Linked DNA regions of Homo sapiens: all the other regions are linked to region 3. The links come from fine-mapping of genetic effects on gene expression. A gene starts in region 3. Each other region holds a variant in brackets. All regions are shown on one strand. Distances are from middle to middle.

Region 1 (2,685 bases), 70 kb before region 3:
GGGATTACAGGCGTAAGCTGCTGCATCTGGCCAAAAGTAGGGCTTTACCATAACTAATTTAACTGGAACCCTAATGAGAAAGATACTAGATGTGTTACAGTTTTTGCCAGTATAAGCCAATACTGTCAGGCACGTCTTTGCTAGGAACATAAATCAGTACGCACTTGTCTATCTTCTCAGGACAGATACCTGCGTGTAGTATTACCAGGACAAAGGGAATACATAACATCAGCCTTAAGAATAATGCCAGGGTTTATAGGTAACATTAATGATGGTAATGACCCTCATTTTGGGGGTTCATCTGTATTTTCTTTGATGGGCATATATTTCTATTGAAAATAGAACAAATTTTTCCTTTTTAATATCAGGAAAAACTTTAAGTTACTAATATGTGCACATTAATTCCAACAGAGTAGAAATACAATACTATTTTTACACAGAAAAAAATGCAGCCAGACATGGTGGCTCACACCTGTAATCCCAGCACTTTGGGAGGCCAAGGCGGGTGGATCACTTGAGGTCAGGAGTCCGAGACCTGCCTGGCCAACATGGCGAAAACTTGTCTCTACTAAAAATAAAAAAATTAGCGAGGGGTGATGGTACACGCCTGTAGACGAAGCTACTCAGGAGGCTGAGGCAGAATTGCTTGAAAACCTGGGAGGTGGAGGTTGCAGTGAGCCAAGATCGCACCACTGCACTCCAGCTTGGGCAACAGAGCAAGACTCTGTCTCAAAACAAACAAACAAACAAACAAACCGACCCAAACAAAGCAAAGGAAAATACATTAAAAACTTGAGTAGTAACAATTTCTGGGTGGGAAGACTGAATGACTTTTACTTTCTTTTTTTTTTTTTTTTTTTTGAGATGAAGTCTCGCTCTGTCTCCCAGGCTGGAGTGCAGTGGTGTCATCTCGGCTCACTGCAACCTCTGCTTCCTGGGTGCAAACGATTGTCCTGCCTCAGCCTCCCAAGTAGCTGGGATTACAGGTGCGTGCCACCATGCCCAGCTAATTTTTGTATTTTTAGTAGAGACGGGGTTTCTCCATGTTGTTTAGGCTGGTCTCGAACTCCTGACCTCATGATCTGCCCGCTTCAGCCTCCCAAAGTGCTGAGATTACAGGCACGAGCCACTGCGCTTGGCCTTACTTTCTTCTTTAAGCACTTCCTGTATATTCTACAAGATCATGTGTGAAATCAGGAAACTGCCCTAGAGCAGGGTTTCTCAATCTTGACAATGTGGACATTTTGGGCCTAGTACTCTTTGTTGTGTGAGGTCGTCCTGTGCATTGCAGGGTGCTTAGCAGCATCCTGGCCTCTACCCACTAGATGCCAGAGCACCCATCCCCCAACGGTAACAACCAAAAATGTCTCCAGGCATTGCTGAATGTCCTACAGGCAGCAAAATCACCCTCCTTGTTGAGAACCACTGCCCTAGACCAGGAGTCAGCCAACTTTTTGTGCAAAAGGACCAGTACTTTAAGCTCGGCAGGCCATACAATTTCTTTCTTTTCTTTTTTTTTTTTTTTTGAGACAGAGTCTCGCTGTGTTGCCCAGGCTGGAGTGAAGTGGTGCGATCTTGGCTCACTGCAACCTCCGCCCCCCAGAGTCCAAGCGTT[C/T]TCCTGCCTCAGCCTCCCGAGTAGGTGGGATTATAGGCACCTACCACCATGCCTGGCTAATTTTTGTACTTTTAGTAGAGATGGGGTTTCATCATGTTGGCCAGGCTGGTCTCAAGCTCCTGACTTCAGGTGATCCACCCACCTCGGCCTCCCCGAGTGCTAGGATTACAGGTGTGAGCCACTGTGCCCAGCCCACGGTACGTATGATTTCTATCACAATAACTCTGTCATTAAAAAGTAGTGTGACAGGCTGGCCATGGTGGCTCATGCCTGTACTCCCAGCACTTTGGGAGGCCGAGGCAGGTAGATTTTCTGAGGTCAGGTGTTTGAGACCAGCCTGGCCAACATGGTGAAACCCCATCTGCACTAAAAATACAAGAAATTTTTAAAAAGTGAGCCAGGTGTGGTGGCACATGCCTGTAGTCCTACCTACTTGGGAGGCTAAGGCAGGAGAATCGCTTGAATCTGGGAGGCAGAGGTTGCAGTGAACTGAGATCGTGCCACTGCACTCCAGCCTGGGTGACAGAACAAGAATAAATGTGTATGTGTCTGTGTTTCAATAAAATTGTATGTACAGGCTTGGCACAGTGGCTCACGCCTGTAATCCCAACACTTTGGGAGGCTGAGGCAGGTGGACCGCCTGAGGTCAGGAGTTCAAGACCAGCCTGGCCAACATGGTGAAACCCCATCTATACTAAAAATACAAAATTAGCTGGGTGTGGTGGCAGGTGCTTGTAATCCCAGCTCCTTGGGAGGCTGAGGCAGGAGATTCTCTTGAACCCAGGAGGCGGAGATTGCAGTGAGCTGAGATCGCACCTTTGCACTCCAGCCTGGGTGACAAGAGCAAGACTTCATCTCAAAAAAAAAAAAAAAAAGAAAAAAAAAGAAAATTTATTTACAAAAACAGACAGCGGATGAAATAGTTTAGCAATGCTGCCCTACATCCTCAAAATCCACAAAATCCAATGAAAACGAAAAGCTTCTGAAGCCATCACTAGGCTGAGCAATGTAACCCCATGCTCTGCCTATCCTCACGTAGGCCTGAGTCTGCCTAAGGCCTGAGTCTGCCT
Region 2 (2,685 bases), 840 kb after region 3:
GTAAAGGCAGACCAATGGCCCAGGAGACCTGGTTATTAGCTGGAATGAAAGACTAGTTGAGCCAGGTTGCTGCCAGTAAAATGGCCTGACTGGGCCAGATGAGGTTCTGTGCCAGGCCTCTGGGGGAACAGGGAGGCAGGTGGTAAGGGGACACTTTGAGAGTCAGCCAAGTCCCAGAATGGGTGGGGGGTTCCTCAAAGGGAAAGTGAAGTGTGGTACCAATAAAAGGAAAAAGGACCCTGGGTAGAAAAAAACACCAGCTTGCAGGCCAGGGACCAGAGCCTGTTTTACTGCCCCTCTTCTTGGCCTGATTCCTCCCTTGCAATCGCTACTGCTTTCCACTCGGTTCCTCAGAAGGACTAGGGAGAAGCCAGATTGTTTTCTTTTCTAACATTAGAGTATCCCTCGAGTCAGCAGTGAAAGATAATTAGACTGTGATCGTTCTATTTAAGCACTTCACTTAATCAATTACAATCGCCTATGCTGTCTCCTAGTATCGATTATAGATTCCTTCGTTCTGGAAATCATACAGCTCCCTCCTGGGATGCTACCGCTGGCACCATGGCTCTCGTGGACGCATGAACACCCCGTGCTGAAGCAGACCTTTCTATGCGGCTGCTCGAGATCCTTTTTCATCTTAATTGTTTCTGAAGACAGGACAGAATACCAGCTCCTTCCATGCCTAACCTGAATCCAAGTGGGAAGGAGCAGCCCAGTTAATGGGGCATACAGTGGCTCCCAGGTGGGCAGGATGAGGTTGGTGGCTCCAGACGCCCTCTCAGAGGAGACACAGGACACGGACTACGGATTGGCTGTGACCCTCTGTAAGGACGATAACTGGGGAAAGGTGACCCTGGACAAACACCAAGCCACCTCACCCACCATAGTCATCATGGCAGGAAACAATGGCTCAGGCCAGAACAGAGTGCAAGTCAGCAGGAAGGTCCCAGAGCTGCCTCAGGTCCAAGCAGCGTGGAAAGGAGAGGAAGGGCTGGAGGTGAAAGACAAAGTTGCGGTGGTTTTCAACCTGGCTGCACATTTAAAAAGACCCATGCTCAGTGGGTTAGGAAGAGCAAGCTAGCTGCACAAACTGGAGACACCTGAGTAGGGAGAATAACTGGGAAATTATCCCAGGTCTATTAGCCAGGGTTCTCCCGAGAGACAAATCCAGTAGGAGCTCTTTCTCTCCCTCTCTCTCTCTCTCTCTCTCTCTCTCTCTCTCCACACACATACAAACACACACGCACACACATACTCATATATAGAGGGGATTTCTTAGTGGAACTGGCTCACGCAGTTTGGAGGCTGAGAAGTGCCACAGCAGACTATCTGCAAGCTGGAGACCCTGGGATGCTGTAGTGTGGCTCAGTCTCAGAGCCAAGGAAGCTGATGGTGTAATTCTCAGTCTGAGGCTGATGACCTAAGAAGCTTGGGGGCTGCTGGCATAAGTTCTGAGTCCCAAGGCCTGACAGCCTGAATTTCTGATGTCCAAGGACAGGAGAAGAAGAGTGTCCCAGGTCTAGGAGAAAGAGAGGCGATCACCTTTCCTCTGCCCTTTTTC[G/A]TTTTATTCAGGCCCCCAGCTGATTAGATGGTGCCCACTTACACTGAGGGCAGACCTTCCCCACCCAGTCCACCCACTCCCATGCCAGTCTCCCCTCCAAGCAACCTCACAGACACACTGGGAAGTGATGCCTTACCAGCTCTCTATAGAGTCCTTCATTCAGTCAAGCTGACGCTTAAAATTAACCATCACGCCAGGTATGAAGCGATAAGGACCCTCCACTGAGGTGTAGGCAAGTTCGTAGAGGTGGTCATGTTTGAGCGAATGGCCTGGTAATGGTTTAAAGGCTTTTATTGAAGTATGGGTGGTGAACAGAGCTGCCTGCCCTCCCGTGATCAATCCCAGTGCTGTCTGCCTCCTCTCAGCACCTAGTCCTATGCCTGGGCCTGGGAAGTGCTTGATAAATTCTGAATGAACCCAAGGACCTGGGCAAAGAAACATGGTTCATTACCAGGAAAAAAGGAAATTTAGACTTACCTCAGTAAAGGAGTGATCAAATAACCCATGGTATAACCCTGGTATGGAACATGGAGCAACAGAGAAAAAGGATGAGAAAAGCAATCCCATTATTGGGTGTATACCCAAAGGAATATAAATTGTTCTGCTATAAAGACACATGCACGTGTATGTTCACCAAAGCACTACTCACAATAGCAAAGTCACAGAATCAACCTAAATGCCCATAAGTGGTAGACTGGATAAAGAAAATGTGGTACATATATGGAATCTACATGGACGTGAAAAAGAACGAGATCATGTCCTTTGCATCAACATGGATGGAGCTGGAAGACATTATCCTAAGTGAACTATCACTGGAACAGAAAACTAAATACTGCATGTTCTCACTTATAAGTGGGAGCTAAACATCAAGTGCCTATGGACACAAAGAAGGGAACGACAAACACTGGGGCCAACTTGAGGGTGGAAGGAGGAGGGTGAGGATTGAAAAACTACCTGTGGGTTCTATGCTTATTACCTGAGTAGCCAAGTAATCTGTACACCAAACCCCCATGACATGCAATTTACCTATATAACAAACAGGCACATGTACTCTTGAACCTAAAATAAAAGTTAAAAATAAAAAATAAATAGAAAAAAGTATAAGAAAGACATGGAATGGTTTC
Region 3 (2,685 bases):
GGAGCTGCCTTGTGCTATATACGGATGGTATGGTGGTAGGGCCTGCTTTCACGGACTTAGATTTAAGCAGGGGAGAAGTCTAGTAGGAAACATATACCTGAGTGTCTCATCATATGCTGACATAGTGCTTGGAAGAAAAGGAACAGAGTTTTTTGTGAGTCTTTAACAAAACAAACAAAAACAAAACACCCCACAAAACTCCTTTCCTCAATTAGTGGGTCCAGAAGGACTTCTCTGAGGTGATAGTAGAGAAGCTATCTAAAGGAGGTAGGAATTAAATAGGCCTAGGAAGATAGAAGCGTTCCAGATAGATGGCATGTTACAAAGGCTCTGTAGCAGGAGAAAGCTTGGCGCATTACCGACACTGAAAGAAGCTAGTATGTTATAAAAAATTTTTAAAGGGCAAGCAGAGACTGTGATTATAACTTTTAAACACAGAAAAGACAGTATGACTAGATTGCGTCAGTGAGGTGGAGATAGTGGCGCTAGATAAAGTCGGAAAGGTAAGCAACATTCATACAGTATGCAACTCACTGCTGGGCTGAGCTGGGCTGGGATGGGATACTGAGTTCGCATCTGCTTTTGTCCCAACTTCCCTCCCCGAGGGTCAGCAGCACAACCAAGCGAGATCAACACAACTAGTGTGTGGTGGCTAAGTGCACCACAGCGGCGATACGGCTAGAAGAAACTAAGAGACCAACATTGTACCACTGAGGCACTAAAGACGCGTCCGCAGTGCCCATGCCTAAGGACTGGAACTCAAGGGCAGCCTAAGGGAAAAACAGAGGGGAGATGGCATGCCGCTTCCTTTACCGCGCCATTCTCGCTGCTCTTCATCAGACAGCCGGCAAGCGACGAAAAGATGTAGCCGTGGCGGGTGTAGGTGCCGCTGCCCGGGCTGCCCTCCTCCAAGTTACACAGACGTTCGCCTGCAGAAAAAATGCTGCATCGGTCACGGGCCCCCAGAAGCTGTAGGCCGTTTAGCCTTCTTGCTTCAGCCCCTATCCAGGACTCTGTACGGGAAGCGCTCACTTACCGGGGATGCAGTATCTCACAGGTGGCGCCATGATTGCCGCTGTCCCAAAACCAGGATGAAAACGAAGTCGATTTCTCATTGGCCAAACCCAGGCACAGTTCCGCAGTAAGACACGTGTCAATTGGTACTCTTTATCCTTGCGAGTAAACTCCATTTCCCAGGTTACCCCGGGACAAATCCGGGGGCGGAACTTCAGAGGTCCACGCTGGCGCCTGCGCGTGTGGTTGAGGATGGGCTGGCGGCGGGTCCGGGTCCGCTGCCTGGCGCTGCGGGCGGCGGGCCATGGTGGTTTGGATTGAGCCGGGCCCGGCCGGGGCGCCGAGTCGGAGGGGGTGGCAGTGAGCGGCGGCAGAGGCTACGGGGCTCGGTTTGGCTGACTGGGGAGTCGGCAGGCGGCAGGTAAGGGCGAAGCCTCGGCCCTTGCTCCCCATCCTAGTCCCTTTTTCTGGGTAGGGCACTGCCCTGGGGCCTTGTCTTGAGTGCGGGTTCCTGCTCTCTCCTCGCCCCGCCCTGCGGGGCCGTGCCCTCCTCAGCCCGAGCGCACCTTCCGAGCAATCGTTACGCTCAGAGCAGGAGGGAAGGAGGTCAAGCGACCCAACTCGTCTGTTTCACAGATATGGAACCTCAGATTCAGAGACAGGGTTTGACTTGTCCAAAATGATCAAGATAGTTAAGATAGAGCCCAAACTGGAACCCACGGTTTTTGACTTCCAGTCCATCGCAGTTTCACCTCGCGGCTGTCATTGAGAAATAAAACCTTTTCCCGGTTTTTTTGTTTTGTTTTTGAGGAGTCTCGCTCTGTCGCCAGGCTGGAGTGCAGTGGAGCGATCTCTGTTCACTGCAACCTCCGCCTCCCGGCATCAAGCGATTCTCCTGCCTCAGCCTCCCGCGCAGCTGGGACTTACAGGCGCGCGCCACCACGCCCAGCTAATTTTTGTAGTTTTAGTAGTGACGGGGTTTCACCATGTTAGCCAGGATGGTCTTGATCTCTTGATCCGCCCGCCTCGGCCTTCCAAAGTGCAGGGAGTACAGGCATGAGCCACTGCCTCCGGCCTTTTCCCGGTTTTTTAAACTGCAGCTTCCAGTCCTGCGGTCCGATCCTCTTCGCGGCCCCTCATCCCCACTTCAGTAAGCTTTCTCTGGTTGAAAAAGCCGAACTCTGGTTGTGTGGGCCCGTCATCAAAAGATAAGCAGCCCCAAAATAAAGTTGTTACTCTTTTTCTTCTCAGCGTGTTAGCCCAGAAGGGAGGTCTGCACATGAATAAAATGCTACTCTTTATTGATGTTGGGTATCTCCTACTTGAGATTGCAAACATCCTGAGAGCAGCGTCTTTGTCCAGATGACATTCGCCACGACTTTGATCTCAGTTCACCTGACTTCTGATGGCTTTGCCGTCTGTCCTTCCCTGTCCCCTCAGTCGACTTTCCCATTGGGAAACAGATGTGACTTAAAGCCATGGGAAGAGGGGAGTGTTGTGGCCAGCAATCTCCTCCAGTCTGGTGGCAGATGACCAGTATGGCCTGTGACTATTACTGAAGGATCAGAGTACTCGGGCTTGTGCTTGGGGTGGTAGTAAAGCTGCGCTTTGCTCTGTTTCCTCCCGTTCACTGAGATTAGCCCCTTCTCCCCTACACACATCTTTTTGAAT
Region 4 (2,685 bases), 120 kb after region 3:
CTTCTCCCACCTGATTCTTTTCTAGGAACATCTTTGTTCTTCTATATAAAATTTAGAATCAGTTTGCCAGGTTCCTTGGGAAAAAACTGACAGGAATTATATTGGAATTGTATTACATTTATAGATCAGTTTAGGGGGAGTGGACATCTCCATGATTTCTTTGAATGTTGCTTCCTTCCCATTTTCCCTATTGTATACTTCTGGAAATTCAGTTCAAAATTTTAGACCTAGCAGGGCATAGTGTCACCTATATAGTCCCAGCTGCTTGGGAGGCTGCTGGGGGAGAATACCTTGAGCCCAGGAGTTTGAGGCTGCAGTGAGCTATGATCACACCACCGCACTCCAGACTGGGCGACAGAGTGACCTTGTCTCTCAAACAGAAAAAAGACATCCGAATCTCAATTATATTGTATTTTTCTTTATTTTTATTTTCTTTTTATTTTTTTGAGACAGGGTCTCACTTTGTCACCCAGGCTGGATTTGGAGTGCAGTGGCATGATCATGGCTCACTGCAGCCTCAACCTTTCTGGGCTCAGGTGATCCTCCCACCTCAGCCTCCTAAATAACTGGGACTACAGCTGCATGCCACCATGCCCGACTAATTTTTTGTATTTTTTGTAGAGACAGGTTTTTGCCATATTGCCCAGGCTGATCTCGAATTCCTGGGCTCAAGTGATCCATCTGCCTTGACCTCCCAAAGTGCTGGGACTACAGGTGTGAGCCACTAGGCCTGGCCTGTATTTTTAATTTTTAGAAGTTCTATATGGTTCTTTTAAGATCTTCTTGGTTATACCTACTATGTACCCACAAAAATTAAACATTTTTAAAAAATCTCCTTGGTCATTCTTTATAATCTCTTATTCATATTTTTAAGGCCCTCATCCCTTAACTCAGTATTTCATAATCTATCCAAAGTCTTTGCAAATCTGATTCTTTTGTCTGCTGTTTTTGCCAGTAAAGCTCGTACTGCCTTGTTTCCTTGCATATTGAGATTTTTTTTTTTTTTTTTAAAACTATTACCTTATTTATTTTTCTTGGAACTTTATCTTGGGAATTCTTTGAGGCCTGGTTTGAAGTTGTTTTCCTCCAAAGAGGGTTTGCCTTTCCTTCTGCCACCTCACCACCCCAGGAACACTTTAAATTAAATATTTGGCTTTAGAGTTTTCTGCCCCTACAGGTAACTGTGAATTCAGATGGTGAACTACAGGATTTAGTCAGACCTGAGGTGGAACCCTCACTCACTTACTATGTGACCTGGGGCAAGTCATTTAATCTCTCTAAATCTGTCATATCACCTGTGAAATAGCAATAATAATACCTACTGCCTAAGGCTACTGCAAGAATGAAATGGGATCATGTATATAAATAAAGGCTTGCCTGGGGTTCTTTCTCAGCGGAGATCGCTGCCTGCAATTCTCTTCCTTGCTTCCTTTTGCCCCAGCCAGTGGGAGCAGCCTGGTGGTGGCCCCCAGCCTCAGTTCTTCCACTCACTGTAGGACCTGAGTTATAGTGGAAGCAGAGTGCTT[C/G]ACATCTCACTCCTGTGGCTCACTCTGCCTTTAGTTTTGAGATGACTGAGCCTCCAAAAGCCTTTGAGAGATACCTCTGCCCTCAGTCTTGGCTGTGGTTTGGAGTTGTCTTGGAGGTCACTTGGAGCTGGGTAACAAGAAAAATGACATTTGACAGAATTGTTTTCTTTGTCAGATGCTGCAGGAATTTTTGGGGGAGTTTGTTGGTCATGATTGCTTAAAAAATCCTTTTTTTAAGTGGGACATTAGTAACAAGATGTTAAAATTGTTAATAATTTTTTTTTTGAGACATGGTTTCGCTGTGTTGCCCAGGATGGAGTGCAGTGGCATGACCACAGCTCACTGCAGCCTCAACCTCCCAGGCTCAAGTGATTCTCCCATCTCAGCCTCCCAAGTAGCTGGAACTAGAGGAGCGTGCCATCATGCCTGGCTAATTTTTAAAATTTTTTTGTAGAAACAGGGTTTTACCATGTTGCCCTGGGTGGTCTAGAACTGCCGGGCTCAAGCAATCCTACTGCCTCCCAAAGTGCTGGGATTACAGGCGTGAGCCACCGCGCCCTGCCCCACATCATGTGGGAAGGGTGCGGTGGCTCACGCCTGTAATCCCAGTACTTCGGGAGGCTGAGGCGGGTGGATCACGAGGTCAGGAGTTTGAGACCAGCCTGACTAACATGGTGAAACCCCATCTCTACTAAAAATACAAAAATTAATCAGGCGTGGTGGTGGGCGCCTGTAATCCCAGCTACTCGGGAGGCTGAGGCAGGAGAGTCGCTTGAACCCGGGAGGCGGAGGTTGCAGTGAGCCGAGGTCATGCCATTGCACTCCAGCCTGGGCAACAAGAGTGAAACTCCATCTCAAAAACAAAAAACAAAAAACAAAAACAATGGTAGCGTATGCTTTGCTGACACAATTATTTTATGTCCCTAGGTTGGTTATGTGAAGTTTTCTGACTCTTCCCTGCTATTTAGGAAGGGCTTCAAAGACCTGAATACTTAGTAGCCAGTGCAGCAGGGTTTCAGGGTCTGGCCTGGGGAGGGGAGGGGAGGGGGAGGGCAGGTTGCAGCTCAAGTGGCTTTAGAGATGCTGAGCCTCTCCTTCTGTCCTGCCCAGGACGCAATGAGCCCCTGAAGAAAGAGCGGCTTAAGTGGAAGAGCGACTA

Which allele goes with the higher level. Positions count from the first base shown, and alleles are read on the strand shown. Sizes are in standard deviations (SD) of each study's normalised expression. Not every link is listed here.
With allele G in place of A in region 2, the expression in monocytes after R848 of the gene that starts at base 1,257 in region 3 is higher (large effect, 0.84 SD a copy in Quach 2016).

Evidence for each region. PIP is the estimated chance that this variant, and not a neighbour inherited with it, causes the effect.
Region 1: its variant is fine-mapped to the expression of ZDHHC16 in whole blood (TOPMed, PIP above 0.99).
Region 2: its variant is fine-mapped to the expression of ZDHHC16 in monocytes after R848 (Quach 2016, PIP 0.95).
Region 4: its variant is fine-mapped to the expression of ZDHHC16 in whole blood (INTERVAL, PIP above 0.99).

The regions. Positions count from the first base shown.
Region 1 is chr10:97,375,372-97,378,056 of GRCh38, forward strand. The region is part of intron 15 of RRP12 (ribosomal RNA processing 12 homolog); the gene reads right to left. Among named protein-coding and RNA genes, the nearest start is that of RRP12, 25 kb to the right of the region's middle. The variant C/T (reference allele first, on the strand shown) is at 1,616.
Region 2 is chr10:98,285,922-98,288,606 of GRCh38, forward strand. No RefSeq gene overlaps it. Among named protein-coding and RNA genes, the nearest start is that of LOXL4, 19 kb to the left of the region's middle. The variant G/A (reference allele first, on the strand shown) is at 1,562.
Region 3 is chr10:97,444,919-97,447,603 of GRCh38, forward strand. It overlaps ZDHHC16 (zDHHC palmitoyltransferase 16), which reads left to right and starts at 1,257. Exons shown (of 12, transcript NM_198046.3): 1 at 1,257-1,435. It overlaps EXOSC1 (exosome component 1), which reads right to left and starts at 1,088. Exons shown (of 8, transcript NM_016046.5): 1 at 1,037-1,088; 2 at 814-929. The coding sequence starts at 1,067. RefSeq lists enhancers at 217-797, 798-1,377 and a silencer at 1,309-1,518.
Region 4 is chr10:97,565,278-97,567,962 of GRCh38, forward strand. It overlaps UBTD1 (ubiquitin domain containing 1), which reads left to right. Exons shown (of 3, transcript NM_024954.5): 2 at 2,637-2,685. Among named protein-coding and RNA genes, the nearest start is that of ANKRD2, 6.2 kb to the right of the region's middle. RefSeq lists a silencer at 1,494-1,583. The variant C/G (reference allele first, on the strand shown) is at 1,527.